Homo sapiens: one gene and its partners. The protein of the gene in region 4 purifies or fractionates together with the protein of the main gene of each other region. This does not show direct contact. Each region holds a gene or a part of one and is shown on either strand. Other genes may lie near its edges. The genes, in order: NIPBL, WAPL, REC8 and SMC3.

Evidence for each region.
Region 1: the proteins of SMC3 (region 4) and NIPBL purify together in Homo sapiens (affinity purification with western blotting; 4 studies listed by BioGRID, with this or other methods). This does not show direct contact.
Region 2: the proteins of SMC3 (region 4) and WAPL purify together in Homo sapiens (affinity purification with mass spectrometry; 7 studies listed by BioGRID and IntAct, with this or other methods). This does not show direct contact.
Region 3: the proteins of SMC3 (region 4) and REC8 purify together in Homo sapiens (affinity purification with mass spectrometry; 3 studies listed by BioGRID and IntAct, with this or other methods). This does not show direct contact.

The regions. Positions count from the first base shown.
Region 1 is NC_000005.10:36,872,806-36,879,769, reverse strand, and holds the start of NIPBL (nipped-B-like protein), read right to left. Parts: upstream 3,002-6,964; 5' UTR 2,592-3,001; intron 1-2,591. UniProt on the Homo sapiens protein: Plays an important role in the loading of the cohesin complex on to DNA. Forms a heterodimeric complex (also known as cohesin loading complex) with MAU2/SCC4 which mediates the loading of the cohesin complex onto chromatin.
Region 2 is NC_000010.11:86,518,791-86,525,842, forward strand, and holds the start of WAPL (wings apart-like protein homolog), read right to left. Parts: upstream 3,003-7,052; 5' UTR 2,575-3,002; intron 1-2,574. UniProt on the Homo sapiens protein: Regulator of sister chromatid cohesion in mitosis which negatively regulates cohesin association with chromatin. Involved in both sister chromatid cohesion during interphase and sister-chromatid resolution during early stages of mitosis.
Region 3 is NC_000014.9:24,167,819-24,175,091, forward strand, and holds the start of REC8 (meiotic recombination protein REC8 homolog), read left to right. Parts: upstream 1-4,261; 5' UTR 4,262-4,734; coding exon 4,735-4,790; intron 4,791-4,894; coding exon 4,895-4,963; intron 4,964-5,080; coding exon 5,081-5,223; intron 5,224-5,307; coding exon 5,308-5,380; intron 5,381-5,472; coding exon 5,473-5,593; intron 5,594-7,273. UniProt on the Homo sapiens protein: Required during meiosis for separation of sister chromatids and homologous chromosomes.
Region 4 is NC_000010.11:110,562,926-110,570,700, reverse strand, and holds the start of SMC3 (structural maintenance of chromosomes protein 3), read right to left. Parts: upstream 3,007-7,775; 5' UTR 2,885-3,006; coding exon 2,870-2,884; intron 1,764-2,869; coding exon 1,688-1,763; intron 1-1,687. UniProt on the Homo sapiens protein: Central component of cohesin, a complex required for chromosome cohesion during the cell cycle. The cohesin complex may form a large proteinaceous ring within which sister chromatids can be trapped.

The DNA of each region.
Region 1 (6,964 bases), on a different chromosome or scaffold from region 4:
TAAGCGACATTGTTGAAATTTCCTTTAGGTGTATGAGAAAATATTTCTCCAAATAATATAACTAGGATTATAAGGTTACTGGAACACTTCTGATTTCTCCTTTCACTGAATTTTAATTTTTAATGGAAATAGATGATTAGCCACTAGTGAATATTCCAACCAACAGAGGGGAAGCAGAACACTCTACACTCTTTAGGGAAACAAACTATTCTCTCCAACTAGGTTATCAGAGATTTAAAGTTCAAGTTTAAATTTTACAATTTGAATTTTACACAATGTTTTCTCCTTTAAAAATGACGTATTTAATTGGTTTGGACCAAACAAAACATATTTTTAAATTTAAAGAAATGTTTATGCTATCATAATGAAAGCTATCACACAACCTATATTACTCACAAATTACTAAATATGTAGAATTGGGAAAATAAGTTGGGAAGAACTAATTCACTATAACAATTCCAAAGTCTCAGGAAAAAAAAGAATCAATCACATAAACCCATCTCTAACACACTTATTCAAACATCTGCATAAGACAACCTCTAAAAATAAGTTGCTTCAGTTCGTGAAAATTAAGCAAGCACAACTCCTCTATTATCTTTAGTAAAAATATGTTTATCCCTTGAAATAAAAGTTGTAGAGACAATCACAGGAATATATGAAGGCCTTTTAAACATTTATAATGAAGCCCTTACCACCTCCATCCCCAAAAAAACAAACCCTCTGCTTTCTTAAGATGTGAAGTATTCCTCCCGTCTGCATTCCCTCCCTGGCATGCCCCCCACTCGCACACCCCCCCACCCGCAGTAGGCCTGAGGCCCCGTAGCAAACAGTGTCTAACAGGAGCAGGCAGCACAAAGACAGGAATGGGAGATTAGTGGGAGGGAGGGAGGCCGGGATTGGGGCTCAGCAGGAGCTTCAGGCTTTTTAAAATTCAAACTGCTCCCTGACCAATACAAATCACGGACACGCTACTGACTACTACACGGATTTATAGCATTAAAAACATGCCTAGTACGTGACAGCTATATTAACTTCATTCTTTTAAACATTTATCCGTACGTTTGCAGGAAATGTGAAACAATTTATTGTAATCAGGACGCTAAACTCAAAAATAACCTCCACAAAATAACTTATTCTACAGTGACAATAATTTAATGACACAAAAAATATGAACCAATGTAACAAACACTAGTAAAACAAGGGATTTCGCTGAGCAGTGCTGCTTCATTTTAACCAATGAAAGTTTTCCTTCAGCGAATATGAAACAAAATATCAAAACGTGTAACCCAGGTACACTTTTCTAGCAATTTGCCTGACTGAGGAATTTTAAATTGGTGTTTCCCCCTTATACCAACCTACATTATGAACGCCTCCATAAACAAGCTCGAAACACTTAACTTACTCATGAACTAGAACTTGTCAAGTTAGAACTGATATTTTTCTCCAGCATTTACAGATACATTTAACCTATTAAAATGACACCTCTCTCATTACACAGTCAAACATCATGGCACAAACAGCCAATGACAATCCTGGGACCTCAAGAAGAACTGCCCTGACATAAAAGGATGGCACCTTCTACAATTTTTTAACCTCCCAAGGATTTTAAGTATAACTTAATTTCTTTTTTGGAAAAAGAAAAGAAAAGTGGTTTTACCCGTATCTCAGCACAATTCTCAGAACACTTAAAATTCTTTGTATGCTCCTACACGTTTTGGTCAGGAAGTACCTGAGTGTTTTACGTATAGTCGCTTAAAACTGCCCTTACATAACGCATACAAATAGAAAGTGGCAGAGTAAACCTGTCAAGTACTTTATACTTGTCTTTGAATAAAAAGTCCATGTGCAACAACACACTGTCAAAACAACAAGATAAAAGCTCTTGGGGAGGGGGAGATGTGCAGTGTCTACCACAGTATGTTTTTCTGTATTAAATATTCATGTGGACGATTTAATTCTTTAAAAAAGAAAATGAGTCTTTATGAACTTTCCAACGTCCAAACAAGTTTTAGAAAGAGAAAGAATTACCACTGGATCCGCGTCTGAGTATTTACGTTTGTCTCACTAACTGAAACTACTTCCTCCCTTCATGGGGTCACAGGGGGAAGAAGGGAGGTTGTTTGTTTCACTGGGACGTTCCCCACTCCCGGACCGGGAAAGTTGTAAATATGGGGACGATCAGGGCACATTTGCTGTTAGTTGTATTGTTTCCGCCTCCCCACTAGCTACGGCTCCACTCCCGGGCGAGGCCTGTCACCGACCAGCAGTCGCTCCGCTCAGCCCGGAGCTCTCCTAATCCCCGAGCTCAAGTAGATTCCGCTGGCCCGCGGCCTGCACTCTCCGCCGGGCCTACGCCTCCCCGGCCGCCCAGCAGGAGCCCAGTCCCCGCCACCGGAGCCGGCCGGGAGAGGGTACAAAACCACCGCTACCCAAGGCGGCTGCCACCAGAGAGGAGCGAACTCTAGACTCGCCTGTGGAAGAGACCTGGGGCCGCTAAGGAAACGGCGGGGAGGGGAGCGAGGAGGAGAGACGCTGAGGACCTGGCGCCGGCGCCGCCGCCGCCGCCGCCGAAATAAAGAGCAGGAATTTACCTGGGCGAATCGGCGTCTGAATCCAAGGGGAGGCCGAGGCCGCTGTGGCGAGAGACTATAATCCGGGCCGGGAGGGGGGGTGGCTACGGCTCCTCTTCCGTCTCCTCAGTGCGGGGAACATGTAGAGCCGGGGGGAGACCAGCCGAGAAGACAAATCGTTGCTTCTTCTTCCTCCTCCTCCTCCTTCTCCCACATAGAAACACTCACAAACACCCGACCACGGGCCCGAGCTACCGGGGGGGCATCGCCGCGGGCCCGGGAACCAATTCTCCTGTCGGCGGGGGCGTCCCTCCCTGCGGCTTGGTGGTGTCGGGTGAGTCGGTACCGACGGAGGGAGGGGGGGGAGGGCGGGGGGAAGGAGCCCTGTGTGTGTCTCTCTCTCGTTCCGTCTCTCCCTCTCAGAACAAAATGCCGACCGGAAGTGCAGCTGCAGGAATGACTCCCTCCGCCGGCGCCAAACACTAACAACCACCCCCTCTTCCCCACTCCACTTCCGCCACCGCCGCAGCCGCCGCTGCCGCCACTTGGGCTCGCGTCCTCGGCCGCGCCGCGCGGCACCCGGGCCCAGCAGCCGGGAGGCGGCAGCTCTCCTCTACGCCCGTCCCCTCAGGGCGGCTGTGGATGTTGCCAGTATTGTCGATGCTTCAGAGCGACGTTTGCCCTGCGACACAGGCGGGCCGGCTCTCCTCTGTCTTTATTTTCCTGGAGGCCGACAGGAGCGGGGCCCGAGTTCGGTGGTGGTCGTGAGCGTGGGGGGCACTCAGGCCCGGACGGGCTCTCAGGTCGCCGACGGCGGCGGCTGGAGGCCGCGCTGGCTGTCCCAGGTCGTCGTTAGCTTTAGGGAGCCGATCTCCGGGCGGCCCCACAGAGGACGCCCGCGATTCGATGGCGATGATGCCCGTTTTAAATGGTGTCCCTGCAGCCGGGTGGATGGATGGATCGTACACCTTGCCTTTTGAGAGCCGGGACCTTACGCCCGACTGCGTGTTATTTCTGCGAATAAGAACGCAACCTTTGGAGGTGAAGACGACTGTCGGCTGGATTGAATTGGAATCGTGTTTGTGATGATGCGTTTATTTCTGGAAATACGCGGTCTCCGCTGCTTTTGCTTTTTGTCGGCAGAGGTTTGGGTTCTTCTCTAACGGTCAGGATAAAGGCCTGTAGGCGACGCTGCGCGAGCGAGAAGCTCGCCCGCGGCTGCCCGGGCGCCCCCCTCTAGGTGTGGGTGGAGCCGAGCGCGCGGGGAGAACCGCCGGCCCCGACTCAGCCACCGGTGACTGCGGGCGACCCGCGGGCCTGCGGCCAGCTGATTTCAAACATCGTTTTCCTCTTTAGGTTCGGAAAACTGAGGCGCTGGACAAGGCTGGAATACAATATGTGATTATACGTACAGTACTATGGTTGTTGTAGTTTTTAAATTGTAAAACAAGAAGTAACCATTGTTCCACCGTTCTCTATTAAGTTTGTGTAAATTAAAAAGGGGCTATTTTCGGTAAAAAGTGCAGTAGGTAAGCGGAATTTTACTCAACCGGGACGAAATTCGTGTTATATGAATTGTATTGTGTATTTGTGTGTGTACCAGTGCGCTAAAAGTAAGTAGGAAAACTTGCTTAGATTATTCCTTTTGCCTCAGGCCACTCAGGGGGCCAAGATCCTGTCACTCCTTTTCTCTAGGCCCTGCGAATGGCTTCCCGTCTTGAGGGGAGTGAGCCAAAGCCTTGACTGCGGCAGAAGTCCCCGCGCGCCGTTGAGGGTGGGGGCGGGCCTGCCCTGGCATCCTTGCGAGTAGGACTCTTCCCTGAGCGTCGTCCACAGGGCTTGCTCCTTCACCTTCAGGATTTTGCTCGTGTCACTCGGTGCTTCCGCGGCTACTTTTAAACTGAAAGTTCCCTAGCCCCCTTCTCATTTTATCCTTTGGACAGTCTACATATCCATACTTGTTTATCTTCTTATCTCTCCTTCCCCAGTGCAATGTAAGCTCTAAGAGGACAAGAGGTTGTGTTTTTCTGCACTGGTGTTACGGCCCCCGCCTAGAATGCCACACAGTAGATGCGTAGTATGTGGTTAAGGAATGAATGCGATTATAAGGGCCTTGATGCTCCCCCATTTCTGTCTTTAATATGTACTTATATGCTACAGAGAGCTTTATAAAAGATTTAAAACACGTTTATTACAGAATTCTATAAAAATATATTGCTTCTAAACATTGGAAAGCCCTCCACAACACCAGAAACCCACAAATGAGGGATAAAATTTGTTTTTAGGCTTCTGTAAATGAGCATGCCCGAGGACAGTGCATCAAATGATCATATCCATACTGGGCCGATTATGTTTGCTCTTCTGAGTCTCAAACTGCATTCTTCATCTTGTCGTCCTCTGTCTTTCAAAATACATTAAAAGTGAGAATTTGGTTGGCTCAGAGCAAATCCAGCACTATTGGAAAAGTTCATTCAGCAAGTATTTATTGGGCACAAATGGGTACCAGGCACGCTAATTCAAAAGGTGTGTGTTTCTGAGGCTAGAAGGCCTTACATAAAGGACCACATGTGGCTACTTTGGTTGCTACTCAATTATGCTGTCAAGCAAAGCAAATGCTAGTGAAATTTATTTTTAGTTTTCTTCTGAAGAAAAGGTTCAATGAAAGCTGAGGTCAGGCTTGGTGTGGATATTTTAATTCACCATTTAGTTTGCTGTTTGCTTACACTTAGGTTAGCATTAGATATACTTAATCATGATTTTTGAGTACTATAAAACGTGAGAAATCTTATTTCCTAGTGGCTGGAAAAACAGGCTTTTTAAATTAAAATAAGTAAATATATCAGTAAGCTAGAAGCTATGCAATAAGGCTTTGGCTATGGTATTACAAATTTTCATATTTCATGTATTGAATTTTTGGACAAGAAAAGACAGCCTTGATAGGTATTTTATAACCATTAATACAATTAATCAAACATTGTTTAGTAAATCCAATCGTCTATTCATTATTATTTTTCCCATTAATCTTCAGAACAGCTTTAAGTTAATACAGATGACTCAGAATGTGTTTTTCACTCAGTTTCAAAATACCATTATTTCAATTCGCTAATAGAAGCACAATTATCTTCTTGTCTGCTTTCTTAAATGTTACTGGTAAACTAGTAATTTTGCATGTCCAGGTAACTGCAGCTGCTACAGTCAATCTGCTTTGGAAAGTCTTGGCATTATTGTGTCATTTAATTTAAAATTTTTAAGTTTTTTTAGTTTCTTCCCTTATTGAGGACTTATTAGGCGCTAATTAGCTTTATGCTAGACATCTCATGCATGGCAGTGAATGAAAACAACACTGCCTTTGAGGGTTTTAACTTGTATATAGTTTATACCATTTTTTTTCCAGGTTATAGAATCAAAGAAATTGTTTCAATTCATATCACAGTATTTCTCTATTAAATCAAATGGTATTTTGCTTGCATAAATTTAAGTATCCAAGTTGAGATCTTACATAGAATCTGTTAATCTAATATTAGTGTTTTCTTCATTTCATTGTCTTGGGTTTTTTTTTCTTAATAATTATTTTTCCCAATACCATCCATTTGTTTTGCTCTTACATTTTTAAGTCTTTTATGTTCCAAATCAGGTGACTTACATCCTCCACTTGTCCATTGAGGATAGCCCAGTAAACCTTTATTCTGACTTTAAATTGCCTCCTTGCTTCAAGAACTGAGTTGCATGACTCAGTTTTCTTTGCTAGAAATATCCCTGGATAGTCTCGTATGTATTCTTGATCAATGAATTGCAGAAGATTTGATTAAAAATTTTAAATGGATTTCAGGGATAAACTATTTGTATCAAATGTCATCACCAGGAATTTCTACAACTGAAAAATTTGAATTGTTATTTTTATTGAAGAATATTTATCTTTAAGATAAATGCAACTTGCTATAAAATGATAGAAATGAAAAATTTTAGAAAATCATTTTCTACTCACTATTTTATGCCTGCCAGTTATCCTTTGTTAGTGATAAAATTGTCTTTTATGGGAACGAATTTGTTAAAGGTAGAAAAAAAACTGGTAGTGTATGTATGTTTTATAGATTAGACACTACCAAAATTATTTAACATTTAGAATAATTAACTTGCTTTCAGGATGACAGATGACTTAAGAAACTGATGAAGGGTTAATTAAGGATATTGATTTTTAGGGCAGAACTACAAAATTATCAAATCACTTAACACTGTAAATATGTTCCTGTTTCAGGTTTTCAAAGTAAATACCTTAATCAAATTTGGAAATAGTATTTATGGATTTTATTCAACATAGATTATCTATTTTGTTAAAATTATAGAAATGAACAGTTCTTTTCCCATGGATGCCTTTTTTCATCTTGGCCTATTCT
Region 2 (7,052 bases), about 24 Mb from region 4:
GAAAAAAGGTCCCCAAAATGGTGCTTTTTCTCATGTTTTACAACCTGCAGCTTTTAACCCAATCTTGAAGATTCTGCTTCTTGGTGTAATGTAATTTGCGCTGTGACTTTAAAAATGTTCCTTAGATGGTCATCTCCCTAGGGAAAGAAACTATCCTTATCCTATCTGCCTTGTCCCGATAGTGCTGTGCTCATTTGCTGAGTTATATTTTCTGGGGCTAGTGAGCTCCAGCATATTACACTGTTTCATGGATTAATACAGACATAGAAACATACAACTTTTATTTTCCTTTTCAATTTATAAATGGCAAATCGATTCACCTGATTTATCTACTTCACAGGACAAAAAAAAAAATCTTTAGGGCAGTAAATCAAGAGTCAAACATTTTTTAAAACAAGTTACTTGCATTAGTTCTGTGCCTATTAAAAAGTTATAGTACTTTTTAAACATGATCAATCAGTAACCGTTTGTCTAACACTTTGACCTTTCTACAGTTCAAACATGAATACATCGAATATAACTTTAAAAAGTGAACAAGGGCCTAAGGAATGAAAAATCATTACTTTGAAAGCTACAAGAATTGAAATTATATTTGACCTATACTTTTGAATATGTTTTGATCTACACTTGTTTTCCCTTGATTAACTTAAATTCTTACCATTTATAATGAGTCACTGTCTGAGTTTTATATAAATTCAGTAGTAGACCCCCCCCCATGTTTGGTGAGAACCCAATTTTAATTTGACAAGGTAATAATTTAGTCATCATACATATCTGCGTTAAGAGAAAACAGTGTTCCTGAAGGAGATGTATTTCATCTTCCACTGCAGCTCTAACACTAACAAGTCTTACTGTCTTTCTTGTTAAGTACAGCCTAAACAAAACAGGATACTGGGCAACTACCACGGACAACAAAATAAAAATCGATTCTCTGTTCCTTCAAGAATGTAAAGCTGAGATCCTGCAGGTCTGTAAGTGTACGTACACATACACACCAACAAAGATGGAATGTTTTGGATTCACTTATGTGCTAATCATCTAAAAATACTAACCAAAGGCCAAACCAAAAATCTAGACTTGAGTTCCTTTATGCCAACATCAGAAAAACTGTTAAAATGGTTCTATAACCACAAAGCATTCACTGTTGAAAGTTTGAAGTCTTCAGATGAATACCTGACACTAAGGACTTAATTATTTTATGTGATAAAAAATAATTTTGTGCTGGCTGGGGGCGGCAGGTCACGCCTGTAATTCCAGCACTCTGGGAAGCCAAGACGGGCAGATCACCTGAGGCCAGGAGTTCGAGACCAGCCTGACCAACATGGAGAAACCACGTTTCTACTAAAAATAGAAAATTAGCCGGGCGTGGTGGCGCATGCCTGTAATCCCAGCTACTCCGGAGGCTGGGGCAGGAGAATCAATTGAACCTGGGAGGCGGAGGTTGCGGTGAGCTGAGATCGCGCCACTGCACTCCAGCCTGGGCAACAAGGGCGAAACTCCGTCTCAAAATAATAATAATAATGATAATAATAATTTTGTGCCAAAAGACCACGTCTTTTACAAATACATAGTGAAATACTGATGAAATAACGTCAGCGATTTTCCAACATTAAGGAATGAGAAGTGTATAGATGAAATAAATTTGTTTAATAGTCACTGCTAAATCCAAGCGATGGGTACAGAGAAGTTCATTATATAATATCTCCTCCTGATTGCCTTTATCGTTTCCCACAATAAAATGTCTTTGCAATGGCATTATCTAAGCGTAAAGCACTACAGATTCCAAAATAAGTGTGCAGACGTCCTTGAAGTTAAATTTTAAGTGTTTCAAGTACACAATCTTGCTCAACCTTTAAACTCCAAAGACTGTCCTAACTAAAAAGGAAAGAATGATTGACGACTAAGTCTTTTCGGTCGTTCGGCTTTTGCCCTAGCCCAAAATCAGGTCGAATTTTGAGAGAAGTGCGCTGTGATTTAAAAAAAAAAAAAAAAAAAAAAAAGCAAAAAGCCTTTATACTTCACTCCCACCCTAATCTAGCGTCTTCCCGATCCCCAAAGGCTTTAAGGGCTTCCATTAAAGATGGAAAGCGGACGGGACGAACCTGACTAACCAGAAATCCTCACCTGGGGACAGCCGGGGCGCCACGGGCAGTGGGCGCGATGGACCCCTCGGACTAGACACTCAATGCAACTTTTCTCCTCCCAACCCGCGCCGCCCAGGAAAGGGAGGTCACTTTCGACGCCCCGGAAGCCTCTGCCACCGAATCCTTAAGGCAGTGCAAGGCCCCAGTGGCGGCCAGAGGCGGATGAAACCACGGGAAAGGACTCGGGGCTGAAATCAACACACTTGACTGGGTTTGGGGAGCTAAGTCAATCAGCAGTCGCCCGAAAAAGAACTCCGAAAAAGGAAAATAAAAGGGGAAAAAAAGAGTTCCTCAGGTCATTCCCCTGCCCAACTTCCTCAGCGGCCCGGTGGGCGAGGCAGTGAGACTTCCACCGCCCGCTCCCAGCCTCTGCCTCCCCCACCCTCCCGGCTCCCTCCCGGCCTAGGCGGCCGCCCGACACCTCACTTACCCTCGGAGCCTGGCGGGTGCTTTGGCCACGGGCCGCCTCCGCCTCTCCCGCTCCCTACGGCCCGCGGGCGGGCGCGGAACCCTCGCGCGGGAGAGCAGGGCCGGCAGGTGAGAGCCGAGAGAGGCGAGGGACTCTGCTTTCGGTAAATAGGAAGCCCGGTTGGGGGGGCAGGAGCGGCGGCCCCGCAACTTCCCTCCCCGCCTCGAGCGCCGCCGGCCGGGCCCAGGCCTAGCTCTCGCTGGCCGCCACTGCTGGAGCTGGTAACAGAGCCTGCTGTGTGCCCCCGCTGGGCCGCCGCCGCCTCCTGCGCCGCCGCTTCCGCCGGTGAATGGTCAGTGCTGGAGTTTGAACAGGGCCCTGAACCATCTCAACGCCATTTGCGCTCCCGGCCCCCACCTCCTTCCTCCAACAGCCGCTCGCTCCGTCACTCCGCTTCCCACAGTCCCCGCGCGGCCGCCCGACCCCGCAGCCAATCGCGCAGCCGCTTACTCAAACCGCCGCGCAGGCGCTGCGCCCCGCATGCTCCGGCGCCCGCCATTGGCCCGGCCGCGGAGCCCGACGGGAGTTGTAGTCCAGGTCCGCGAGGTCGCGGGCCGAGGACCAGGCGCGGGAGCGGGAGCGGGCGACTGGCCGGGCCCTCCCGGTCTCGGCAGCCACTTCTAGCTCCCGGCCCAGCCGGGAGACGCAGGTGCCACGGAGATGGGCAGCCGGGCGGGTGGCGCAGTGCAGGCAGCTGTATCAATCGCTTCCCCTCCAGGGACCCGCCGGTGCCTGGGGACCGCGGGCTGTGCAGCTGTGCCGGGCCTGCGGAGGCCGCCGCCCGGGAGCTGGGAGGCAGGGGGCGCGTGGTCAAGAGCCGCCCTCGACCTGGCCTGGTCGGTCCTGGCCCGGCGTAGGTGACGATGGCGGGGACCGCGAGGCGCCGGACACCCGAGGCCACGAGCAGCGTCGCCCCTCGCTTTTTCGCGCCCCTCCAGCCCTGCAGTCCTTCCTCTAAGTCCGTCTGCCCCTCACCGATTGAAAGTGGCCCCGAGAATATTGGATGGTATTGAGCAATTATCATTAACTTTGTTGGGTGTGGTAACGGTAATGTGGTTATGGTTTTTTGTTTTTTTTTTTTTAAGACCTACTGATGTGTTGACAGAGTGATCTGGTGTCAGGACTGTAAAATACGCCTATGAAAACTGGGGGAGAGGAATAAAACAAGCTGGCAGAACGTTTTTCATCGTTGAAGCTGCGTGATGCGAGCATATGTGCTCATCATACAGTCTCTTTACTTGTGTATCTGAAATTTTCCATAATAAAAAGTTTAAAGAAGTGAACCAGCGATTGCCTCTAGGGAGGACAGTGAGGTGGCGGATGACGGGAGGAAGGAGTCTTAATTTTTCGCTGTACGCCTTTTTGTGCTATCTTAGGTTTTTCCCATTCAATGTGTTACCTAATTCAGAAAATTGGTAAGTTTTTTTTAAGGCTACCATGGGAAAACAGCGTTCTAAAGAGTAGCGCAACCAGTTCCCCCTAAGAGAGGTGCATGATTCGTCGGACTCCGACAGCCTTGGTGTTTGTTAGGCGGTTAATGGAGACCCACCTGGGAAATTAGAAAACTACTAATTGCTTTCAGTGAGAAGCCCGCCCTTCTCCCACAAATGGATAATTTGCTTTTAATGCACCCAGAAGTTATCCAGCTCCCTCCGGTATAATCGGGGAAACTCCAAATAAAGGAAAAATAGTTCAGAGACCCTGCAGCTCTTCCCAAGAGGAATTTAAGGTGGATTTTAGTGTGGTTGGATTGTTTTGCCTACCTGACTGCAGAATTTATATTCTGACATTTACAATTTCCTAAATACTGAATCAGTACTTTTTCTTGTTTCAAAATAAATCAACTTCTTCTGTAGTTTATATGAAAAACAAGTCCATGTCTTCCACTGTGGGTGGGATGCACATGACTGTTTTATTTGGGTCAGTTTTGTCTCTTTTTTTAATTGGCAGTTTAGGAACTTGTTTTTATCATTTTGTTTAAAGATCTTCTGGCAGAGGTGCAGGCTGCACTTACTATAATTATTTAGATGACAAGGTGGTGGGTGGTAATTAAAGGGTAATTATCATCAGAGGCAAAAGGTAAGATCAAAAAACCAGAAGAGGTGAGGAAACAATTGCAAGATCTTCCTGTAGGAGGGTGTCGTGATCCTCCCAAGACCAAAGGATATGTCTATTATGCCTGGCCTCTCTAGTGCTGGACACTTGGCAGGGTCAGTGCCTGCATGAGGCTGAAGTGGAAGGGCTTATTGTTTAGACTGGTGCCTTTTGAGGGCTTTTATGTGATGGTTGTGTTAAGTAATGAAACTTAGTAGTGTCAAATTCTTGCCACTCAAAGAATGATCCCCAATCAGCAGTGTAGCATCACCTGGAAGCCTGTAAGGAACGCATAATTCCTATCCCTCACCCCAGCTCCACTGAATCAGAACCTGCATTTTAACAGGATTCCCCCAGCTGATTGGGCTGCACATTAAAGTTTGACAAGCACTGATTTAAAGTATACCCATAGCATTTGACAGCAATCTAGTATTTTTCGTTAGGATGAGGGAGAGGAAGGGAGATGATTAAGAACCTCCTATGCATCAGGTAAGATGCTAGGCTGTTCAGGGGCCTTGTCTGCTTCCCAGTCCATTACTCTATCTTACAAGTAAGGAAATGGGAAGACTTGTATGTTACAACTAATGAGGGAGTCAAACTTTTTCTTGACGGTTGGATACCCTTTAGTACTTCTTGGTGTTCTTGAATCTGGTAGAAAGTGGTACATGATTTGAGAAGTAAAGTGTGTGTGAGTGTGTGTGTGTGTGTGTGTGTGTGTGTGTATTTAGTCTGTGGAAGCTTAGTATATGAATATTAAGCAGAGCTCTTCTGGGCTCTGTACCCTTGTGTGGCTCACACTAAAGACACCCCTCGGGCCCCTCCTGGAGGGAGTTCAGACTCCTGGCCCTGCAGGCTGTACCACCACCTTAACCCCTTACCTCCCTGCTTCCACTGAGGCAAGCAAATGCCCTGAAGTCCCCTCATTCCCTTACCAGGGCCCTGGGTTCCACACCAGAATGAGCAAACAGAACTCCAGTGTGGGTAACACATGGCTGAACAGCTTTTTGTTGTATTGTTTTTGTTTTCTTAGTTCTCTCAGCTCAGGCTCCATCCCCCTGGCCACCTCAACCCCTAGAATGGTTGTCTCCATTTCATGAGAATCTTCACACTAACATCAAGTAGCCAGTAGGTGCTTTTGGTTTTGCTAGAATGCCTGTGTGCAAGCTCTCAGATACCTGATTTTCTTTCCCCCACTGAATGTTGTGTTTGTCAGAAACTGAAATCATGGATCAGAGCCAAGTTTGTAGTACCCTTAGGAGGGGCCTCTGCCCTCCTGTGTGCTGCCTGGGTGAGGACAGAACCCCCTAACCTGGAGCTCCACTTGAGTGGGCCCATACCTGTACTTTCCTCTGAAAAAAGAAAATCCTGCAAAGAAAATAGAAGACATCTGTTCTGCCATTGCCATGCCCTTGTTCTAGCCCAGACATGAGAACTGTCAGAATTGGAGTTACTAAATAGAACTTTTAGTCTTTTTCTGATAATGTGTAGTAAAGTGTATTACAACTTATAGAATTCTATTTAGGGAACTACAGGTCAGAAACTACCATATTGGTAGCAGTCAATTTTTCTTTGCCATCGGATGTGGAATAAAATGTTAAATTGTACACTTGCATGTTGTGGTTATATTACAAAGCTCTACGAGATGTGGGCCAGGCCCTGCCCTTTGCTCATGCAGCCCCAACTTTCTGCTCTGCCCACACCTGACTCCTTGCTGTTTCCCCACCTTAGGGCCTTTGTATTTCCTATTCCCTCTGCCTACAACTCCCCCAGATACCAGCCTGCTTCAATTCTCTCCTCTAGGTTTTCACTCAGATGGGACTTTTCAATGAATCTCCCCTGACCAACCTATCTTAAATTGTTGCAACATCCTCACTCCTAAATGTCACTGTCCCTGCTTTACTTTCTTTAAGGGCATTTATCTTCCCATCTAACATATCAGGCATTTTGCATGTTTATCTTAAATGTTGTGCTCCCTCTGAAGGCAGGGATCTCTGCCTGTCTTGTTTTCTGCTGCAACCCTAGCACCTAGAAGACTGCCTGGCACAAGAGTAGGTGCTCAATAAATATTTGTTGAATAAAAGCACCCATTTATTTCCTTCTTTCATGTAAAATTATATACATATATTATATATATATATATATATATTTTTTTTTTTTTTTTTTTAGACGGAGTCTCGCTCTGTCACCAGGCTGGAGTGCAGTGGCGCGATCTCGGCTCACTGCAATCTCTGCCTCCCTGGTTCAAGCGATTCCCCTGCCTCAGCCTCCCCAGTAGCTGGGACTACAGGCGCACACCACCACACCCAGCTCATTTTTTGTATTTTAGTAGAGATGGTGTTTTGCAT
Region 3 (7,273 bases), on a different chromosome or scaffold from region 4:
TCTTGTCCATCATCCCACTGGGAAGCCAAGCACCTAGACATTCTCTGCACTAGCAGTGAAGAAATGAGGTACTGAATGCAGAGGTGTACAAACCCTGTTGTGCCCTCAATGTGATGCAATGTGATGAAATCCTTCCTGGACCTTCTTTGTACAAGGTCTAAATTATCTCCTTGACTTCCATTTTATTTTAATTATTTTGATTAAAAACAAAAACTTGGCTGGGCATTGTGGCTCACACCTGGAATCCCAGTAATTTGAGAGGCCGAGGTGGGTGGATCACCTGACGTCAGGAGTTCGAGACCAGCCTGGCCAACATGGTGAAACCCCGTCTCTACTAAAAATGCAAAAAATTAGCCAGGCGTGTTGGTGGACACCTGTAATCCCAGCTACTTGGGAGCCTGAGGCAGGAGAATCGCTTAAACCCAGGAGGCGGAGGTTGCAGTGAGCCGAGATTGCACCACTGCACTCGAGCCTGGGCAAAAAGAGCAAAACTCCATCTCAAAAAAAAAAAATTTTTTTTTTCGGCTGGGCGTGGTGGTTTATGTCTGTAATCCTGGCACTTTGGGAGATCGAAGTGAGAAGACTGCCTTAGCCCAGGAGTTTGAGACTAGCCTGGGTGACATAGTGAAACCCTACTTCTACAAAAAATTCTTTTTTTTTTTTTTGAGACAGAGTCTCACTCTGTTGCCCAGGCTGGAGTGCAGTAGTGCAATCTTGGCTCACTGCAACCTCCACCTCCTGGGTTCAAGTGATCCTCCTGCCTCAGCCTTCTGAGTATCTGGGATTACAGGTGCGCACCGCTATGCCAGGCTAATTTTTGTATTTTTAGTAGAGACAGGGTTTCACCATGTTGGCTAGGCTGGTCTCGAACTCCTGACTTCAGGTGATCTGCCCACCTCAGCTTCCCAAAGTGCTGGGATTACAGGCGTGAGCCACTGCACCTGGCTCCCAAAAATTCTTAAAAATTAGCCAGGTGAGGCCAGGCATGGTGGCTCACACCTGTAATCCTTGCACTTTGGAAGGCCCAGGTGGGTGGATCACTTGAGGTCAGAAGTTCGAGACCAGCCTGACCAACATGGTGAAACCCCATCTCTACTAAAAATATAAAAAAAATCAGCTGGGCATGGTGGCACATGCCTATAATCCCAGCTACTTGGGAGGCTGAGGCAGGAGAATCACTTGAACCCAGGAGGCAGAGGTTGCAGTGAGCCAAGATCGTGCCATTGCATTCCAAGCCTGGGCATCAAGAGCGAAACTCCATCTCAAAAAAAAAAAGTGGGGGAAAAAAAAAAGCCAGGTGTGGTGGTGTGTGCCTATAGTCCCAACTACTTGACCTCCTAAAGTGCTGGGATTACAGGTGTGAGCTACTATACCTGGCCTCCTTCCGTTTTCTATCATACCCCACATCCAATTCATCAGCAAATCCTGTCGCTCGCTATTCCTTCAATATGTATCCAGGGTCTGACCACTTCTCTCTGTTCCCATCAGCAACACTTTGGAACAAACTACCACCATCTCTCATGTCTCCTCCTCTGCTTCCTTCACATCTGTTTCCACACGTGTCTACCTTAAGCTATTCTCAACACAGTAGAGATTCTTTTCACATGTAATTCTGATCATGTCACTCCTCTGCTCAGAACCTTCCAGTGGGTCCCAAATCACCCAGGGTAAAAGCCCAAATCCCCATAAGGACCTCTGAGGTCCTGTGATGCGACCCTACCCTCCTCTCTCTCTCTCTCTCGCCCCTTGCCATTCTTCCCCTGTCACTTTGCTCCAGGCTCCTTGAACCCACCAAACACATTTCTACCTCAGGGTCTTTGCATTTGCTGGTTCTTTTGTCTAAATTACTCTTCCTTCAGGTAGGCACATGACTTACCCACATTCTTCAAATTTTATCTCTTAAGAGAGGGGGCAAGGCTTCCCTGAGTACCCTCCCTAAATAGCAGCCGTCATTATTCTATCCTCCTATGCTGCCTCATTTTCTTCATAGCACTTACGGCCACTTCATGTATTTCTTTTTTTCTTTCTTTCTTTTTTTTTTTTTTTTTGACAGAATCGCCCATGCTGGAGCACAGCAGTGCAATCATGGCTCACTGCAGCCTCGACCTTCGGCTCAATCGATCCTCCTGTCTCAGCCTTCTGAGTAGCTGTGACTATAGGCATGTAATTTGAGAGGCCGAGGCGGGTGTCACCTGAGGTCAGGAGTTTGAGACCAGCCTGGCCAACATGGTTGAAACCCTGTCTCTACTAAAAATACAAAAAAATTAGCCAGGCATAGTGGCACATGCCTGTAGTCCCAGCTACTCAGGAGGCTTAGGTAGGAGAATTGCTTGAACCCAGGAGGCGGAGGTTGCACTGAGCCAAGATGGTCCATTGCACTCCAGCCTGGGCGACAAGCAAAATTCCATCTCAGAAAAAAAAAAAAAAAAAAAAAAAAAAAACTCTCAAATTGAAGGGGACTGTAAGAAGATAGGGTCAGCTCAGCTGCAGTAAGATATAAGTCTCAGGAAGAAGCATGCTCTGGAGTCAAGGCAGAGAAGGACATTCTAGGCCAAAGAAATGGCTGTGCAAAGGTAGGAGGCATAGGGACAAGGGTTATTATTACAACTGTACCTCTTAAATTTACACAATAATTGTTGAGAATATGGCTTTTCCAGGCTAGGAAGTTGTGCTGCATCCAAAAATGCTAAAGTCTATTTCAGCCGGGAGAACACTGACAGCTGGGAAAGGACCACACGTGGCGTGCCCATAACCTAAGTTGTTCAGATTTAGGAAGTGACCCCAGTAAGTCCTTTCGGAGTTTCGTGTAAGATTGACTTCTTCAGCTGGGGGCAGTGGCTCACGCCTGTAATCCCAGCACTTTGGGAGGCCAAGGCGGGCGGATCACCTGAGGTCAGGAGTTCGAGACCAGCCTGGCCAACATGGTGAAACCCCTGTCTCTACTAAAAAATACAAAATTTAGCCAGGTGTGGTGGTGGGCGCCTGTAATCCCAGCTACTCGGGAGCCTGAGGCAGGAGAATCCCCTGCACCGGGGAGGCGGAGGCTGCAATGAGCTGAGACTGCGCCACTGCACTCCAGCCTGGGTGACAGAGTGAAACTCCATCTCAAAAAAAAAAGAAACCAGCCTGGCCAACATAGTGAAATCCCGTCTCTTCTAAAAATGCAAAAATTAGTTGGGTGTGATGGAGGGCGCCTGTAATCCCAGCTACTCAGGAGGCCAAGACACGAGAATCGCTTGAACCTGAGGGGATGGGGGGCAGAGGATGCAGTGAGCCGAGATTGCCGAGATAGCGCCACTGCATTCCAGCCTGGGCAACAGTGAGAGCCTCCATCTCAAAAAAAAAAAAAAAAAATGGACTTCTTCCTCATTGACCTGTGGTGGCTCCAAGGCCATCAAAAAAAAAAAAAATGGACTTCTTCCTCATTGACCTGTGGTGGCTCCAAGGCCATCATCTCACAGCCTTTTTTTTTTTTTTTTTTTTTGAGACGGAGTCTTGCTCCCTTGCCCAGGTTGGAGTGGAGCTGCATGATCTCGGCTCACTGCAACCTCCGCCTCCCAGGTTCAAGCATTCTCCTGCCTCAGCCTCCTGAGTAGCTGGGATTACAGGCGCGTGCCACCACGCCCAGCTAACTTTTGCATTTTTAATAGAGACGGGGTTTCACCATATTGGTCAGGCTGGACTCGAACTCCTAACCTCATGATCCGCCCGCCTCGGCCTCCCAAAGTGCTAGGATTACAGGCGTGAGCCACTGCGCCCGGCCTCATCTCACATCTTTCTTCCTCTGCAGCACACGACACGCCCTAGTTGGAAACAAAGTCGGAGTTTGTGGATTGGGGGAAGGGCGGGGTCTAACCTCAGGTCAGGCGCCGTGCAAGGTACATCTTGGCACCCGGAAGAGGCCCAGTACAGTTGCCCCCGAGGTGACCCGACCTCCCCTACCAATTGAGGCGCCCTTGTTGCCAGGCTTGCGGCGGGGGAGCGGCGGGGGAGCGACGGGGATGCGCTCATTGGTCAAGGAAGGGGCGCCTGTTACTAGAGGCGAGAACCGGAGCCCATTGGTCGGAACACCTCACAATGGACCCCAGCGGCGCGCAAAATCCTTATGATTGGTTTGCTGGCTGCCTCGGGAGACCCTGTTGCCAGGATACTTGGCGTTCCCGACCCGACCCCCGTTCCCCATTGGCTGTCAGGGCAAAAGCCGCCATCTAATGAGGAGCGAGGTGCGGTGCCCCGAAGCGCTCGCTTCCCGCGGTGCGATCTAGTCCTGCAGTAGGCGGCCCGGGGCCACACCGCGGCCGCCCAAGCCAGTGCAAGGCCCAGGGGCCTGACATCGCTCCCAGCGCTCGAGGACCGAGGCCTGCTGTGGAGGACACCGTGCTCCCTCGGGACCTGCTCTGGATTCCGGCCCGGACGTCCCCTTGGAGCTCTGCATCTCCAACCTGGAACCCAACCCAGAAGTCTCAAGTTTGACGCATCACGTGGCGTGCGGATCCACTGAGGGTCCACAGAGAGGGGCGCCCATCTCCTGCGTCTCAGTTATCCTGGTAATTGTGTATCTGCCCATTGTTCGTTGCCTCATTAACTTGGCTTTCTAGGTGCACCCACCTTGCCACCAGAGAAGTCCAAATCCTGACTTCTCTCCAAGGTGTTGGGAATTCTGTGCCCTAAAGAATTCCGACTCAGATCCGAACGGGGATCTGGTGGAATCGAGGGTGAAAGACCAGAGGGACAATGTTCTACTATCCCAACGTGCTTCAGCGCCACACCGGCTGCTTTGCCACCATCTGGTAAGGGCGGGGCCCGTTGGCGCGCGATGGCGGACGCTGCCCGGGATCCCAGCCTGACAGCTCCCCCTCCATCCCCATTCTCCCACCTTCCCCACCCACTTCAGGCTGGCGGCGACTCGCGGCAGCCGGTTGGTGAAGCGCGAATACCTGAGGGTGAATGTGGTGAAAACCTGGTAAGGCCCAGAAAAGGGAAGGAGGGCCTGGTGCGGGGGGTGAGTTAGGGGATGGGGTGGCCAAGACTGTGGGCCCACTCCTGGACGCAGCGGTAATCAGGGCGCATTGTTCCCCAGCGAGGAAATCCTCAATTACGTGCTGGTACGAGTGCAACCCCCGCAGCCCGGCCTGCCGCGGCCCCGCTTCTCCCTCTATCTCTCAGCCCAACTTCAGATCGGTGTGATCCGCGTCTATTCTCAACAATGCCAGTACCTCGTGGGTAAGGCTGGGAACCCTCAAAGGTGGGGCGGGCTGAGCAGCTGTCTGCTAAGCTGGCTGTCTACCTCGTCCTCCCTGCCCACAGAGGACATCCAGCACATCTTGGAGCGCCTCCACCGTGCCCAGCTGCAGATCCGAATAGATATGGAGACTGAGCTGTGAGTGTGCCCTGGGCCTTTGATGGAACACCTGCTAGCTTGGCCTCAGCCTGGCTCAGCCTCAGTCCTTCACGGCCTACATTCTCTCCCAGACCCAGCCTGCTGCTTCCTAACCACCTGGCCATGATGGAGACCCTAGAAGATGCTCCAGATCCCTTTTTTGGGATGATGTCTGTGGATCCCAGACTTCCTAGTCCTTTCGATATCCCTCAGGTAGGGCTCATTCCCCAAGACTCGTGAATTGGCAATGCAGAAGGGGAGTGCTGTCCCTGTGTCACTCTGACATTGGGGTTGGGGAAGGAAGCTTACCACAGCTCTCTCCCACAGGAGATGGTGCAGGGGGACTGCCAAGGTGGACCCATCCAGGCGAAGCCCCCTGTACTTACCTACTCAGGGCCAATCTGATCAGACGGTTTCCCCACTGGAGGCAGCTCTTGTCCCCACTTGTCTCCACACTGTTTTCACTGCCAAGGCCCTAATCCAGGCTCTCATCTCTCTGCACTGGGCTTTCTTACCCCTGTCCTCCTCCATCTATTCCCAATACTCCTACAGCTTAATGTCACCCCCTTCCTTGGTTCCCCATTTGAACAGTGGCTCCTGCTGCAAACAGATTACTAGCATTTGGGGCTCTCCATGCCCCATTTATTTCTTTTTTTATTTTATTACTATTATTATTATTATTTTTGAGACAGGATCTTGCTCTGTGGCCCAGGCTGGAGTGCAGTGGCACGATCTCAGCTTACTGCAACCTCTGCCTCCCCGGTTCAAGCAATTCTCCTGCCTCAGCCTCCCGAGTAGCTGGGACTACAGGCATTTGCCACCATGCCCAACTGATTTTGTATTTTTAGTTGAGACAGGGTTTCACCATGCTGGCCAGGCTGGTTTCGAACCCCTGACCTCATGATCTGCCTGTCTCCTCCTCCTGAAGTGCTGGGATTACAGACATGAGCCACAGAGCCCGGCCCAATTTTTTTAGGGTTTCGCCTTATCGGCCAGGCTGGTCTCGAACTCCAGACCTCAGGTGATCCACCCACCCTGGCTTTCCAAAGTGCTAGGATTACAGACGTGAGCCATCGCGCTGGCCTATTATTATTATTTTTTGAAATGGAGTCTCTGTCACCCAGGCTGGAGTGCAGTGGCATGATCTTGGCTCACTTCAACCTCCGCTTCCTCTGGTCAAGCGATTCTCCTGCCTCGGCCTCCCGAATAGCTGGGATTACAGATGCCTGCCACCATGCCCGGCTAATTTTTGTATCTTTAGTAGAGATGGAGTTTCATCATGTTGGTCAGACTGGTCTTGAACTCCTGATCTCAGGCACTCCACCCGCCTCGGCCTCCCAAAGTGCTGGGATTACAGGTGTGAACCACCGTGCCTGGCACATACCCCAGTTTAGAACTAGTCATCCCCAGACTTCTCTCTCAGTCCTCTGGGCATCTGTGGCTCCTAAACACTAGTTTGGCCCTTATGCCTCAATGATGCCACATTCACATCTTTGCTTGTACTGTTTCCCTAGCCCATAATGGTCACCCCTCATCCTCTACAAGTCGGGTTCTACATATTCTTACAGACCTGGCTCAAATGCTGCCCTTCTCTATGAAATATTTATCCCAGTCTTAGCCGGAACCAAATGCAGTTTGGGAACTCAGTACTTTGCTAGGGCCTTGTTTTACCCTTTGCCTTGACTCTTGTGGGGTTACATACAACCTTGTCTCCCCACTAGACTTCCTTAAGATCAAGAATCTTTTCTGTTCACCTCTGTCAACCACAACACTTGCCAAGGATAACGATGCACTGCTGCTTGCACAAATTTTTTTTTTTTTTTTTTGAGACAGAGTCTTGCTCTGTCACCCAGGCTGGAGTGCAGTGGCTCAATCTCAGCTCACTGCAATCTC
Region 4 (7,775 bases):
ACAAAATGTAATCATTCTAGCTAGTAAGTTACAGATCATTTATAAAATCACACAAATGAAATATTAAGGTACTTATTTTAAGGTGCAAGTTAAAGAAAACAGAAATCTAATAATTCTTATTTTTCTACATTTCTAAAGATTTTCTGATTGATGAAAAAAATCAGAAAGTACTTATATGTAAGCAAAACCCCAGTACAATTAAGCCACCCTATGGCATGTCAATTCAATTAAATGACTTCAGTAGACAGAGCACAAGCAGGGAAAAAAAAAGTATGCCTTCTTTATTCCCAACTACAAGGCTGCTATTGATAAATCGAGGGCAAAAAAACCTGCCTTCAATTTTATCATTTTATACAAAATGAAGTATGATTCTCTAAAGGTCTTCTGGAAACATTAGTAATGTGAATCTCACCCACGCACCACAGACTGAATTGAACTGACACCCTGAAACAACTGACACCTTAATCCCGAATGTGATAGTATTTGGACATGGGGACCCCTGGAAGATGATTATGGTTAAATGAGGACATGAGGATGGGGCCATGTGAGCACACAGCAAGACAGCAGCTGTCCATAAGCCAGGAAGAGAGCCTCACGAGAACCTAACCATGCAGGTATCCTGATCATGGATGTCTGACCTCCAGACTATGAGAAAAAAAATATCTTGTTTAAGCCACCAGTCTATGGTATTTTGTTATGGCTGCCTTAGCAAACTAATACACCACTTAGTTTGGACTCTGTACAGCAAAACTGTGTCAACAGCAGTCTGTGTTTCTGGTGTCCAGAAGCACTCCTTTCATCTATCCTGTAAAATACTCAGCAGAGTGTCAGAAAACATTTTTGTTAGCTGTATCAGCAAAATGCACACTACAATCTGAGCAATCTATAATGACTACATATTGTTAATGGCAATCACCATTAGCTCTTTATCTTCACACTTACATAAGGTTTCTCATTTAATCTTCTCAACAGCCCTATGAGACAGGTATCATCTCCACTTTACAAATGAGAAAACTGAAGCTTCTCAGAAAGTGAAAAAGAACGTGTGCCACAACTGGGATTTTTTTTTTCGTTGTTGTTATACTAGGATACATGTGCACAACATGCAGGTTTGTTACATAGGTATACATGTGCCATGTTGGTTTGCTGCACCCATCAACTCGACATTTACATTAGGTATTTCTCCTAATGCTATCCCTCCCCCAGGCCCCCACCCCCCTATAACTGGGATTTGAACCCCATTCTGTTATGCTCCAAAGTTTATGCTCTTCCAATCTAGCTACATGGTCTGTCCTTAGAGACACTGACTGCCGGGGTGGGGGGGGAATCCTGGCATCTACTTTGTGAATAAAAATTGTCTGTCTCTGAAATAAGGCAACAGTCAGCATTTTCACTAGGATATATAACAAGAACAGAAGAGCGGAAATGCTTTAAAACACTCTTACACACACATACAAGGCTACCTAGATAAAAAATGGATAACTTATGAGTGTCTTATCCAAACATTTTAAGTTTATAAAAATAAGCAATTCATCAGTGCAATAAGACAGAAAAGTTATTTCACGCAGAAAAATATAACTTAATATTCAAAGACAATTCCTGTCTCCTTAAGCCAATATAGAAATGGACAGAATTTACATTATCTGTATAGACTATAAATATGACCGAGTAAACCAAGAACACTTACCAATCACATTATGTTTTGAACTGAAGGGATCTACAATTGTTTGATCTCTGTAACTTCGAAAACCCTGGATAATCACCTAGTAAATAAAAAACATTTTTGAGAACCCACCCCACAAAAAAAATTAACATTTTTCTCTTGCATTTCTTTCTTGTTTTTCATTTAATGCAATATAGAAAACTCGAAATTTCATATAAGAAAAATTCATTTTGGAAAGTGGTGATTAAAAATCTGCTAAAAAAAAAAAAAGGTACTTTTATCGGTAATCTTTGCCAAGGCAATGCTGCTGGGTTTTATTTTTTTTTAGGAGTTATGCTGTCAACCTGTTAAGGACCTTTCAAAATCAAAAACACTGTGTGAGCTTAACTGAACCCTAAACGCTGCAGTACAATAGCAAGTCTATAAAAGCAGGCCGACGGGCCCCAGCTCTCCTGACTCCAAGACCACCGAGTGCTGCTTTCAGTCACTCACGCCGGCCAGCCTGAAAGAACCCACGTTCCAAAGAAGGAGTGCTCAGAGCCCGACAGACCCAACAGAAAACCGTCTCCAAGGCCGTGTGCCTGGGCTCATCTTTGTGGTGGAGTCCCGCGCGGGAAGACCATTTTGACAGAAGTAAACAACCGAGGGAGGCGGCGCTCCGTATCCTGCAAGCAGGAGGGTCCCGCTCACTTCGCGGGTTAACTGGGGAGAAGAACGGCTCCCCGCAGTGACAGGTGACGACACCCCAGCCAATGCCCCCAGGGCCGCCCCCGGGCCGGGGAAGCCACCTTTCCACACATCCCAGGCACATGGGCCGTGTGAGGCCACCCCTGCAGGACCACACAGCCCTTCCCGCCCGCGGCCGCCCCGGCGGGGTGCCCCCCGCCAGCTCTGGGGCCACCCAGGAAGGCCCAGTCCCTCCCAGCGGCCCGCCCGCCGGCCCTTCCACACCTCTCGGAGATCCTGCCTCTCCCAGACAAGCGCCAGCAGGGAGGCCGGGGCTGCAAAGGAGTGCCCCAATTCTCCGCGACCCCGCAGCCGGGGCACTAGCGGGACCCGGGTCTCCCTCCTCCCCCACAGTCCCCGCCCAGCCCTGGTCCAGCCTGTGGAGACAGGGGAGAGGCTGCGGGTGGCGCCGCAACACTCCCGCCTCAAGGAGCGGCCCTTACCGGCCCATGACGGGGTGGAGGGACGCGAAGGCCTTACCTGCTTTATGTACATGATTCCGGGCCCCTGGCCTGGAAGGAGACCTGCCCCGGAGCAGCAACCGCACGGCCGCAGGGTCAGGTGAGGCGCCTACGCGACCCCTCCCCCAAAGCGCCGCTCGCTCCCCTCAGCCAAACAAAATGGCGGCGCTCGTGGGGGCGGAGTCCGCGCCTCGGACGGAACCACCTTGCAGCCTTCACAGGGCGTAGGAGGAGTCAAGTTCAGGTCTGCTCTTTCTTTTAGGCAAAACCAGTCCTCCACAGCGTTTTTTGGTGGATTTCTTTTGAATCTAGAATTCTGTAGCTAACGCTTTCCTGAGACTTAGTCAAAAGCTTCACTCGGAAAATCTATGACCGTAGGGTTGGTCCGTACCACCTCCGAGCGCGGGGCCAATGGTCGCGTCCACAAAGGGGGAAAGGTTCCGCGCCAAAGCCAAGAGGGAGACTCCGAGGGCCAGTAGCGCCGCGGGCTGTCGGCCACGTGATTCCGCGCTGTTTAAAAAAGCGGACCTCGCGCGCACTGTGCTAGCCTTGGAACACATGGAATGCTGGTGATTCTTGGAATTCTGTGTGCGGAGTCACTGCTGCCCCTTTGTTATCGCTCTCCATAGGAACGTTTACAATCTTAGCACGCCCCAAGCTGGTTACGAATTGCCCACTCGGAGGACAACCCCGAAGGGATTTGTCAATGCTCGAAAATTTGTTTTAATAATGTGATGATTAATTCCGTCGGGAACTGTTTCTGTTCTACCATCTGCTATAAATCTAGGCAGATCTGTACAATTGCAACAAAGATTTAGGTAAGGCTGAAAGCTTTTAATCCACTTTAAAAACAAAAGAAAACAGCCTGAAAGATACTAGGTGCTAGTGGCAACCCTAGGTCTGTCTGATCCTTGTCAGTCTTGGGAGAAAAACATCATTTGTTTAGAAAATGAATCTCTGGGCTGCTCTGAAATTACTTGCTGGGAAGAGAACAAAATAACTACCCAAATCATCCCCAGCCCCACCCCCGCCCGCTGCTGGAGACAATTCTGGCCCTAATTATTTCTAGATTGAACTATTTTTAGTAGCCTCCTAACTGCCTCTGCTAACCAGGGTATCTCCCTAGGAGTCCTTTATCTGGAGCCCGGATCAAATCCTATCCAGCCCTTGGTTTAAAAAAATAAATAGGCCTGGTCGAGTGGCTCAAGCGTGTAATCCCAGCACTTTGGGAGGCTGAGGGGGGAGGATCACCTGAGGTCACGAGTTCAAGACCAGCCTGGCCAGCATGGCGAAACCCCCGTCTCTACTCGAAATACAAAAATTAGCTGGGCGTCGTGGCGGGTGCCTGTAATCCCAGTTAGTCGGGAGGCTGGGGCAGGAGAATTGCTTGAATCCAGGAGGCAGAGGTTGCAGTGAGCCAAGATCGCGCCACTGCACTCCAGCCTGGGCAACAGAGCGAGACTGTCTCAAAATAAATTAAATAAATATGTAAGCATTTTCTTTTCTTTATTTCTAACTTTTTTTTTTTTTTTTGACAGGATCTTGCTCTGTCACCCAGGGTGGAGCTGGAGCATAGTGGCTCGGTCATGGTTCACTGCAGCCTCAAACTCCTGGGTTCAAGCCATCCTCCCACCTCAGCCTACAGGCTGTGGCCACCAAGCCCAGCTTTTTTTTGTTTTTGTAGAGACCAGGTCTCCTTATGTTGCCCAGGCTGGTCTCTAACTTCTGGCCTCAAGCGATCCTCCCACCTCTGCCTCCCTAAATGCTGGGATTACAGGAATGAGCCACTGCACTCAATCTAAACATTTTACTTCTAGATTTTAGTTGTATTATTTAAAGCTTAGGACAGGTATGGTGGTTCACGCCTGTAATCCCAGCACTTTGGGAGGCCCAGGTGGGTGGATCACTTGAGGTCAGGAGTTTCAGAACAGTCTGGCCAACGTGGCAGATAGGATTATCTTATACATCCTGTTTGTAATTCTAAATATGATGGAGTTTTATCATCTTCATTTTATAGACTAGGAAGTGGAGGCTCAGCATGGCAAAACTCCGTCTCTACTAAAAATACAAAAATTAGCTGGGCGTGGTGCAGACGCCTGTAATCTCAGCTACTCAGGAAGCTGAGGCAGGAGAATCACTTGAACCCAGGAGGCAGAGGTTGCAGTGAGCCGAGACTGACACTGCACTCCAGCCTGGGTGATGGAGCGAGACTCTGTCTCAAAAAAAAAAATTCTAAGCCTCCACTTCCTAGTCTATAAAATGAAGATGATAAAACTCCATCATATTTAGAATTACAAACAGGATGTATAAGATAATCCTATCTACCTAAAATTGTTTATACATATGTAGGCAAAATATGAAAAGATGGTGACTAAAACATTTGAATGGCTTTCACAGTGATGGGAGTTTTACTTTCTTCCTTAGGCTTTTCCATATTAAATGAAGCTTATACAATTAGCTTATATAATTTATATAGGCAGAAAAAAAGATCAGCGAAAAACCTAAAATAATCAAAAGGTGATTTTGAGAATGTAATGCTTTTATTTATATTTATGTATTTATTGTCTATCTCTGCACGAATATAAATCCAAGAGAGAAGGGACTTCATTTTGTTCCTGCTGTTACTTAGTAACTAATTCACAGAAAGTACTCAGTATATATTTATGAGTGAAAAATGCACAGAAGCAAAGTACTTACCACCGTGCAGGGCTTACATATGCCAGCTACTGGTGTTTAAAAGCTCCCTATGTCCCCATTCCACCCACCTTTCATCCCCCTTAGGAGCATCATTCTCTTCTGGTAAGTACGTAGGAGTCGAACATATTGATCTCCTTTAGCCAGGATAAATAGTTATTCAAACCTATGAACTATCTGGAAGCAAAGGGACATTCCTGAAAGAAATTGCCACCATAAAGCAGAATGCCAGCCGCACAGTGCCTACTAGCTCATAGCTAAACAACGGAGAACTGCAGCCTTGAAACAGTGCCCCAAAGAGTTAAAGAAGTCTGTGACTAACAAATTCTTGAGTTTGCAGGATAGCAGATGAGAAAAGAAACAACTTGCTGAAACTCCCTCCACTTGTAATATTAAAAAACTGACTGAAATTGCTTGCAATCAACATGACTAACTGGAGTTTGTGCAGAATGGTTTGCTAACATCACAGCCTGAATTTCCAGTGCATGGTTCATACAAACTCCCCGAGTTTGACATATGATCCATGTGGTGGCATGAAGAGGTAACTGTGCATGCCTCAGCACTTTCTAGACCTCCGCTTTCCTTCCGCCAATCACCTACTAATCCCAGAATCCACCCATGAATTTTTTTCTAATAAAATTACTGCTTTAAACCTAGCACAGAGAGACAGATTCGAGCTGGATTCCTGTCTTTTTAGTCAACTTGCAATAAAAAGCTTTTCTTTTCTCAAAAACCCGGTATCATAGTATTGGCTTCTAGCACATCAAGCACTGAGCCCTTTTTGCTTGGTAACATCATTTTACATCTAAACATCCCATTAACAACACATGGCATCACCTCCTCAGTGTTTTTATTTCTCTCCCCCAACCCCACCTCAGATTGATTCAGCATGATCACTTAGACACACTGGAGTGGGAGGAGGGGAAAAAGAGACACTAATCATAAGTCTCTTTAAGAAGGGAGTCTCTAATGCTCAAAGCACAGACACACAACAATCATAATCCCGTATATTTGTGTAGCTCCTCACCCAGCTTCAAAGTGCTATCATGTGTATGGTCTGTCTTAGATTTTTCTCACTGATGCTGTGAGGAGCAAGGGTACTTATTTTGCATTGGGTTGGAAACCCAAGGGTCTTATGCTGACTCCATTTGACAAATTCCATGAGTTGGGACATGTCATTTTACCATGTGACTTTCTGTAGATAAAATGGGAATATTCTCTGCCTTTCCAGGCAGCAAAGATGCAGATAGACATTTGCCCCAACAGTCAGTGGTCAGACTTTGGGAGAGCCGGGTCACATCCTGGCTCTATCACTTGCTGATGTATGACCTGGGGAAGATTAACCTCCTGAAGCCTGTTTCCTCATCTATAAGTAAAGATTTTAATGATATCTATGGAAATTTCCTTGCAGGTAAATTAGGATGATTTATTTAAAATAACTGGCACAAGACATAGTGTTAGCTATTTTTGTTATTAGTTCATAGCCAAACTTGTAGTCAGCAAATCCCTGGGAAAAGACAGCAAAGAGCTAAACTGAAAGATCAAAATGCCAGGAGAAAACTGACCAAACACTCTGGGACCACCTCACCCCCCATTATTCATTCATTCATTGAACAGATATTTACTGATTACCTCTAGCATGAATGTGTCCTAATAGCGTTGAGGAGAAAGAAACTTTTCCTCTGCCCTTTTATGTTTATGGGTGAGGTGTGGAGTGGGGGGAATCCATGAACATAAGAGGACAGGAGCTTAAGGCTTGGCGGCGATCGCCTGTAGTCCCAGCTACTCCGGAGGCTGAGGTGGGAGGACGGCTTGAACCTAGGCGTTCAAGGCTGCAGTGAATCATGACTGTGCCACTGCACTCCAGCCTGGATGACACACTAGCAAAAGAAAAAGCAGATTTTAATCACATACGTACATGTGGGAGTTCACAAAGAAATGTGACTCAAAAGGGCAGTTACAATTTGGGGCTTATATAACCCAAATGGAGTTTGAGACCAGCCTAGCCAACATGGCAAAACCCCATCTCTGCTAAAAATACAAAAATTACCCAGGCATGGTGGCCTGCAACTGTAATCCCAGCTACTAGGGAGACTGAGGCAGGAGAATTGCTTGAATCTAGGAGGCGGAGGTTGCAGTGAGTTAAGATCACACCACTGCACTTCAGCCTGGGTGACAGAGTGAGACTCCATCTCAAAAAAGAGAAAAAAATCCATTTTGACTGTGTGCTC